2 linked regions of the Homo sapiens genome follow. The protein of the gene in region 1 interacts with the protein of each later gene in a biochemical or structural test. Each region holds a gene or a part of one and is shown on either strand. Other genes may lie near its edges.

The links.
Region 2: the proteins of SRGN (region 1) and MBL2 form a complex in vitro, tested with the Homo sapiens proteins (one study listed by IntAct).

Annotation. Positions count from the first base shown.
Region 1 is NC_000010.11:69,098,103-69,101,702, reverse strand, and holds part of SRGN (serglycin isoform 1 precursor), read right to left. Parts: intron 1-3,600. UniProt on the Homo sapiens protein: Plays a role in formation of mast cell secretory granules and mediates storage of various compounds in secretory vesicles. Required for storage of some proteases in both connective tissue and mucosal mast cells and for storage of granzyme B in T-lymphocytes.
Region 2 is NC_000010.11:52,765,873-52,770,005, reverse strand, and holds part of MBL2 (mannose-binding protein C precursor), read left to right. Parts: intron 1-690; coding exon 691-759; intron 760-1,495; coding exon 1,496-1,869; 3' UTR 1,870-4,133. UniProt on the Homo sapiens protein: Calcium-dependent lectin involved in innate immune defense. Binds mannose, fucose and N-acetylglucosamine on different microorganisms and activates the lectin complement pathway.

The sequences.
Region 1 (3,600 bases):
GGGTGGAGTGTAGGAACAGAAGTCCAGCCACAGAGGGGGTGAGGAAAGGAGGGGGCAGGCATGGGTGGCCCTTTCAGGAGGTGTTATTGTGAAGAGGAGCAGAGAAGGGCAACCACTGGAGAAGACGCAGAGTCAAAGGAGAGATGTTGCCTAAACATAGGAGATACTAAAGTCCACCCCTATACTGATGGGAAGAAGACACTGAGTTCAGAGAGATAACTGCAGAATGGAAGTCCTGGAGAAGATGCATGGGAAAAGGATACCAGCCACAAAGAGAGGTGGCCTTGGAAGCTGCAACAGCCAGGGTCCAATCAGGAAACTTCTCCAGATATTTAACACAGAGGGAATTCCTCATACAGGTGATGGAGGAGAAGTGAAGCTAAATGGGGGATAGCGAGGTAACCCAGAGATTAGCAATAGCAAGAAAATATTTCCTTCGGCCAGGCACAGTGGCTCATGCCTGTAATCCCAGCACTTTGGGAGGACGAGGCAGGCAGATCATTTGGGGTCAGAAGTTCAAGACCAGCCTGGTCAACATGGCAAAACCCCGTCTCTACCAAAAATACAAAAATTAGCTGGGCATAGTGGCACACCCTGGAGGCTGAGGCAGGAGAATCACTTGAACCCGGGAGGCAGAGGTGGCAGTGAGCTGAGATCGCACCACTGCACTCCAGCCTGGGCAACAAGAGTGAGACTCTGTAAAAAAAAAAAAAAAAAGAAAGAAAGAAAGAAAAAAATACTTCCCTCCTTGGGCTACAGCGATAGTGGAAGGAGGTTGTCTATTTCCTGAGCCCAGGGACTAGAGGCATCTGGTGGGAGCTGAGGCCATGGGCAAAACAGAGTCCTGCCCAAGGTGCCATCCCAGGCAGGGAGTAAGGAGAAGAAACATACCTCTCTCCCTTCCTCCCAAGCTCTCAGTCTCCCGTCCTTGCCTCCCATTGGCCAAAGTCAGCCACAGCCCTGGGAGCCTGAGAAATGCAGACGCCAGGGGTCAGTTCCACCGCCACCCCCACCCCACAGCCAATACAGAGCAGGGCCAGGGAAGGACAGGAGGATCTGAGGGCAAAAGGGTTTGGGATCAGCACAGAAGCAAGGACCATTCTTTCGCAATGACGGGAAAGAAAGCACAGGGTCAGGGTGAGAAGCAGTTACTGGCTTTGGGGAAGGAAAATAGAGATTTGAGAAGAGGAGGAATGGTGTGCAAGAGTTCTTTTGGAGAATTTGAGCTATTCTCTTAACATTTTATTTTATTTTTTAATTTTAGTTTTAATTGTATTTATTTATTTTAAATGTGTTTATTTATTTTGAGACAAGGTTTTAGTCTGTCACCCTGGCTGGAGTGCAGTGCCACACCATGGCTCACTTCAGCCTTGACCTCTCAGGATCAAGCAATCCTCCCACCTCAGCCTTTCGAGTAGCTGGACCACAGGCATGCATGGCTAGTTTTTGTGTCTTTCTATAGAGACGAGGTTTCTCCATGCTTGGCTAATTTTTGTATTTTTCTGTAGAGACAGGATTTCTCCATGTTACCCAGGCAGGTCTCAAAGCAATCTGCCTGCCTTGGCCTCCCAGTCTGCCTGCCTCGGCCTCTCAATAGCTGGGATTACAGGCGTGCCACCATGCCCAGCTAATTTTTGTATTTTTAGTAGAAATGGGTTTCCGCCATGTTGGCCAGGCTGATCTTGAACTCCTGACCTCAAGCTATCCGCCTCGGCCTCCCAAAGTGTTGGGATTACAGGCGTGAGGCACAGCGCCGGGCCACTAATTTTTAGAGATGGGGTCTTGCCGTGTTGCCCAGGCTGGTCTCAAATTCTTGGCCTCAAGTGATTCTCCCACCTCAGTCTCCCAAACTGGGGGGATTACAGGCATGAGCCACTGCAGCCTAACATTTTAGATTTAAATGAATTACTATTGAAACCAATGATTTAAAGTAATGAAGGATGCTGTAATATTACATTCAAACTTAATGCTGAGGCTTTAAAGTAAGAATGCAAGAGTAGGACTACAAAGTTGCATATTGAAGATTGTAATGATGTCATCACTAATGCAGTGAATACCAGTGATGGAGAAAGTCACCAGTGATGGAGAAAGTCACCAGCGCTGGGAATGGTGGCTCATGACTGTAATTCCGGCACTTTGGGAGGCTGAGGTGGGAGGACTGCTTGAGTTTAGGAGTACATGACCAGCCTGGGAAATGTACAGAGACCCCTGTCTCTACAAAAAAAAATTTTTTTAATTAGATGGGCATGGTGCTGTGTGCCTGTGGTCCCGCTACTTGGGAGGCTGAGGCAGGAAGATCACTTGAGGAGTTCGAGGCTGCAGTGAGCTATGATCACACCACTGCACTCCATCCTGGGTGACAGAGGAGACCCTGTCTCAAAAAAAAAAAAAAACAAAAGAGAAAGTTGCCAGGATCCCAAAGTGATGTGAAATGTACCTGGTTTGGAGCATGATGATTAACCCTGGCTTTGAGGAGAGTGATTTTCTAGGTTTGAGCCTGGAGATTAAAACTTTTATGATAATCCTTTTCTTAATATGTATATTTTGCTACATCCTACATAGCTTTAGTATTCATTGAATTAATGGTTTCTAATATAATTCAATTTTTTGTTACTTATGAATTTATATCAGGTCTTTTTTGCAAGTTTAAAGCAAGTTTTATGTGATCAAAAGAAGAGATTTGATTTTTGTTTTACAAGTCTTGGCTAATTATTCTTCCTTTCCCTAATTTTTTTTTTCTTTTTTTGAGACAGAGTCTTACTCTGTTGCCTAGGCTGGAGTGCAATGGCATAAATAGGGTTCACTGCAGGCTCAACATAGGCTCAAGAGATTCTCCTACCTCAGCCTCCCGAGTAGCTGGGACCACAGGTGCACATCACTATGCCTAGCTAATTTTTGTATTTTTTGTAGAGACAGGGTCTTGCTGTATGGCCCAGGCTGGTCCCAAACCTCCTGGGCTCAAGGGATCCTCCCACCTCAGCCTCCCAAGGTGCTGGGATTACAGGCATGAGCCTCTGCACCTGGCCATTTTTAAAAATAATTACCAACTACTTGAAGAACATTTTTTTAATATAAAAAATGTATTTGAAATAGAGATAGGGTCTCACTATGTTGCCCAGGCTGGCCTCAAACTCCTGGGCTCAAACAATCCTCCCGCCTCGGCCTCCCAAAGTGCTGGGATTACAGGCATGAGCCACCACACCTGGCAGAAGAACATTTTAATCACCTCCTCCAAAAAAAACCCTCATACCCATTAGCAGTCACTCCTTATTCCTCCCTTTCCCCAGCCCCTGTAACCCACTAATCTACTTTCTGCCTCTAGGGATTTGCCTATTCTGGACATTTCATCTAAATGGAATCATACAATATGTGGCTTTTGGTGTCTGGCCTTCCTTCACTCTGCATAATGTTTCCAAGGTTTATCTATGTTGTAGCATGTATCAGTACTTCATTCTTTTTATGACCCAATAATATTCCTTTGTATGCTTATACCACATTTTGCTTATCCATTCAGTTAATTATTGGATTTTTATATATAGTGTGTTCTGTTTACACAAATAAAACAATGTTCAATCATTTTCAATACCTGTTGATGAAAAG
Region 2 (4,133 bases), about 16 Mb from region 1:
TGAAGACTCAGAGCACATTATCATTTCTGTCAGACTGTATTGGTCAAAACAAGTCACAAGGCCAGCCCAGATTCAAGGAGTGGGGTAATAGACTCATGTCTTAATGCGAGGAGCTGTACCCTATTGAGGCCATTTTTGCCATCTACTACAACAAGTGATTTGCTCATGCCCTCCCCACTTGGATAATGGGCAACTCACAAAAATCTTGGTTTCCTGACTAACAGAACAAACCTGGAAAAAACAAAAACAAAACAAAAGACATCAAAAGCAAAACCTCTCCAAAGACAAAAACTCTGCAATCTTTTTCGTCACTCTTCACCAGGTCATAATAGAGTAACGCCTCAAGAGATTTCTTTTTAGTTTTGATAGAACAATTTATTTGAAAAAAAAATCTGTGAAGAACCTGGCATATGGATTGCTAGGTAATCAGGGAGTATATGTGTGCATGTGATATGTATGCGTACTTTGGGATACAGTAAACAGACAAAGAGGGACATTTGGGGTTGGATGGAAATAGCGATTTTTCATTCTTTGGGCTTTTCAGTATTTTTTATTTTCCTTCAAAGTGTAAACATCAATGTAAAATAAGCTTTTTTTTTCAGTTTGAAAAAGATACTCCACTCCCTTGTATATGCACAGTTCTGAGGCTCCTTCTCAACAATGCTTCTTTACTTTGTTCTAATTTTCTAGATGGTGATAGTAGCCTGGCTGCCTCAGAAAGAAAAGCTCTGCAAACAGAAATGGCACGTATCAAAAAGTGTAAGCTTTTTCTCTTACTCTCCAGGCAGCTTGAAGTTTGGGAAAAATAGAATGCAACAAATATTTGTTGAATGCATATAATTTTCTGTACCCTGCTAGGCATTTCTCATATTCTTACCTCATGAAATTCTCACAACATTTTGGTAGAAATGGAGGCAAAGGGAAGTTAAATTACTTGTTCAAATGCACAGAGCTAATAAATGGCAGGGGTGGTTTATAGATGGAAGTCAGTCTGACTCGAGAGACCCTAATCCTTTACCGTCTGATATTGCTCACTGAAAATGGGACTTATATCCCTTTGTTGCACTGGTATTGAGACCTGGCCGTGGGGTCTAACCTGCCTGGGGCAAATATTTTCAGACATTTTTTGTTTGGTCTCAAGTTAACAATTTAGAATTCAGAAGTCCAAATTATATGTCTTTTAGAATTCTGATCTGAAAGCACAGAGAGGCCTTTGTACCAGTCTGTCTGTTCACATTTGGGTTGCCATATTTAACAAATAAAAAGACAAAGCACCAGTTAAATTGGATTTCAGCTGAAAAACATTTTTAGTATAAGTGTGTCTGAAAAATTATATGGGAGATATACTAAAATATTCATTGTTTGTCTGAAATTCAAATTTAACTGGACATACTATATTTTATCCGGCAACTGTACTCTAGAAGACTTTTTCTTGAGAAATACCTTGAGTTGGGCTTAAGGATGAGTCAGTTTCACCCACTTTTTCACATTTTAGGGCTCACCTTCTCTCTGGGCAAACAAGTTGGGAACAAGTTCTTCCTGACCAATGGTGAAATAATGACCTTTGAAAAAGTGAAGGCCTTGTGTGTCAAGTTCCAGGCCTCTGTGGCCACCCCCAGGAATGCTGCAGAGAATGGAGCCATTCAGAATCTCATCAAGGAGGAAGCCTTCCTGGGCATCACTGATGAGAAGACAGAAGGGCAGTTTGTGGATCTGACAGGAAATAGACTGACCTACACAAACTGGAACGAGGGTGAACCCAACAATGCTGGTTCTGATGAAGATTGTGTATTGCTACTGAAAAATGGCCAGTGGAATGACGTCCCCTGCTCCACCTCCCATCTGGCCGTCTGTGAGTTCCCTATCTGAAGGGTCATATCACTCAGGCCCTCCTTGTCTTTTTACTGCAACCCACAGGCCCACAGTATGCTTGAAAAGATAAATTATATCAATTTCCTCATATCCAGTATTGTTCCTTTTGTGGGCAATCACTAAAAATGATCACTAACAGCACCAACAAAGCAATAATAGTAGTAGTAGTAGTTAGCAGCAGCAGTAGTAGTCATGCTAATTATATAATATTTTTAATATATACTATGAGGCCCTATCTTTTGCATCCTACATTAATTATCTAGTTTAATTAATCTGTAATGCTTTCGATAGTGTTAACTTGCTGCAGTATGAAAATAAGACGGATTTATTTTTCCATTTACAACAAACACCTGTGCTCTGTTGAGCCTTCCTTTCTGTTTGGGTAGAGGGCTCCCCTAATGACATCACCACAGTTTAATACCACAGCTTTTTACCAAGTTTCAGGTATTAAGAAAATCTATTTTGTAACTTTCTCTATGAACTCTGTTTTCTTTCTAATGAGATATTAAACCATGTAAAGAACATAAATAACAAATCTCAAGCAAACAGCTTCACAAATTCTCACACACATACATACCTATATACTCACTTTCTAGATTAAGATATGGGACATTTTTGACTCCCTAGAAGCCCCGTTATAACTCCTCCTAGTACTAACTCCTAGGAAAATACTATTCTGACCTCCATGACTGCACAGTAATTTCGTCTGTTTATAAACATTGTATAGTTGGAATCATATTGTGTGTAATGTTGTATGTCTTGTTTACTCAGAATTAAGTCTGTGAGATTCATTCATGTCATGTGTACAAAAGTTTCATCCTTTTCATTGCCATGTAGGGTTCCCTTATATTAATATTCCTCAGTTCATCCATTCTATTGTTAATAGGCACTTAAGTGGCTTCCAATTTTTGGCCATGAGGAAGAGAACCCACGAACATTCCTGGACTTGTCTTTTGGTGGACATGGTGCACTAATTTCACTACCTATCCAGGAGTGGAACTGGTAGAGGATGAGGAAAGCATGTATTCAGCTTTAGTAGATATTACCAGTTTTCCTAAGTGATTGTATGAATTTATGCTCCTACCGGCAATGTGTGGCAGTCCTAGATGCTCTATGTGCTTGTAAAAAGTCAATGTTTTCAGTTCTCTTGATTTTCATTATTCCTGTGGATGTAAAGTGATATTTCCCCATGGTTTTAATCTGTATTTCCCCAACATGTAATAAGGTTGAACACTTTTTTATATGCTTATTGGGCACTTGGGTATCTTCTTTTGTGAAGTACCCGTTCACATTTTTGTATTTTGTTTAAATTAGTTAGCCAATATTTTTCTTACTGATTTTTAAGTTATTTTTACATTCTGAATATGTCCTTTTTAATGTGTATTACAAATATTTTGCTAGTTTTTGACTTGCTCCTAATGTTGAATTTTGATGAACAAAATTTCCTAATTTTGAGAAAGTCTTATTTATTCATATTTTCTTTCAAAATTAGTGCTTTTTGTGTCATGTTTAAGAAATTTTTGCCCATCCCAAAATCATAAGATATTTTTCATGATTTTGAAACCATGAAGAGATTTTTCATGATTTTGAAATCATGAAGATATTTTTCCATTTTTTTCTAATAGTTTTATTAATAAACATTCTATCTATTCCTGGTAGAATAGATATCCACTTGAGACAGCACTATGTAGGAAAGACCATTTTTCCTCCACTGAACTAGGGTGGTGCATTTTTGTAAGTTAGGTAACTGTATGTGTGTGTGTCTGTTTCTGGGCTGTCTATTCTAGTCTATTTGTTGATGCTTGTGTCAAACAGTACACTATCTTAATTATTGTACATTTATAGTTGTAACTATAGTCCAGCTTTGTTCTTCTTAAAGTCAAGATTTCCATATAAATATTAGAAACAGCTTCTCAATTTCTACAAAATCCTGATGAGGTTTCTACTGGGACCACATTGAGTCTATCAATCAACTTATGCAGAACTGGCAACTTACTACTGAATCTCTAATCAATGTTCATCATGTATCGCTTCATGTAACTAGAATTTCTTTAACTTAATTGCTATGTTTTGACATTTTTAGTTTAAAAACCTTGTATATCTTGTTTTGGTGGTTTTAGTGATTTTAATAATATATTTTAAATATTTTTTCTTTTCTATTGTTGTACACAGAAATACAGTTAAGTTTTGTGTGTAGTCTTACGATGTTTAGTAAACTCAATAAGTTTATTTCTTAAATCTAGTAATTTGTAGATTCCTCT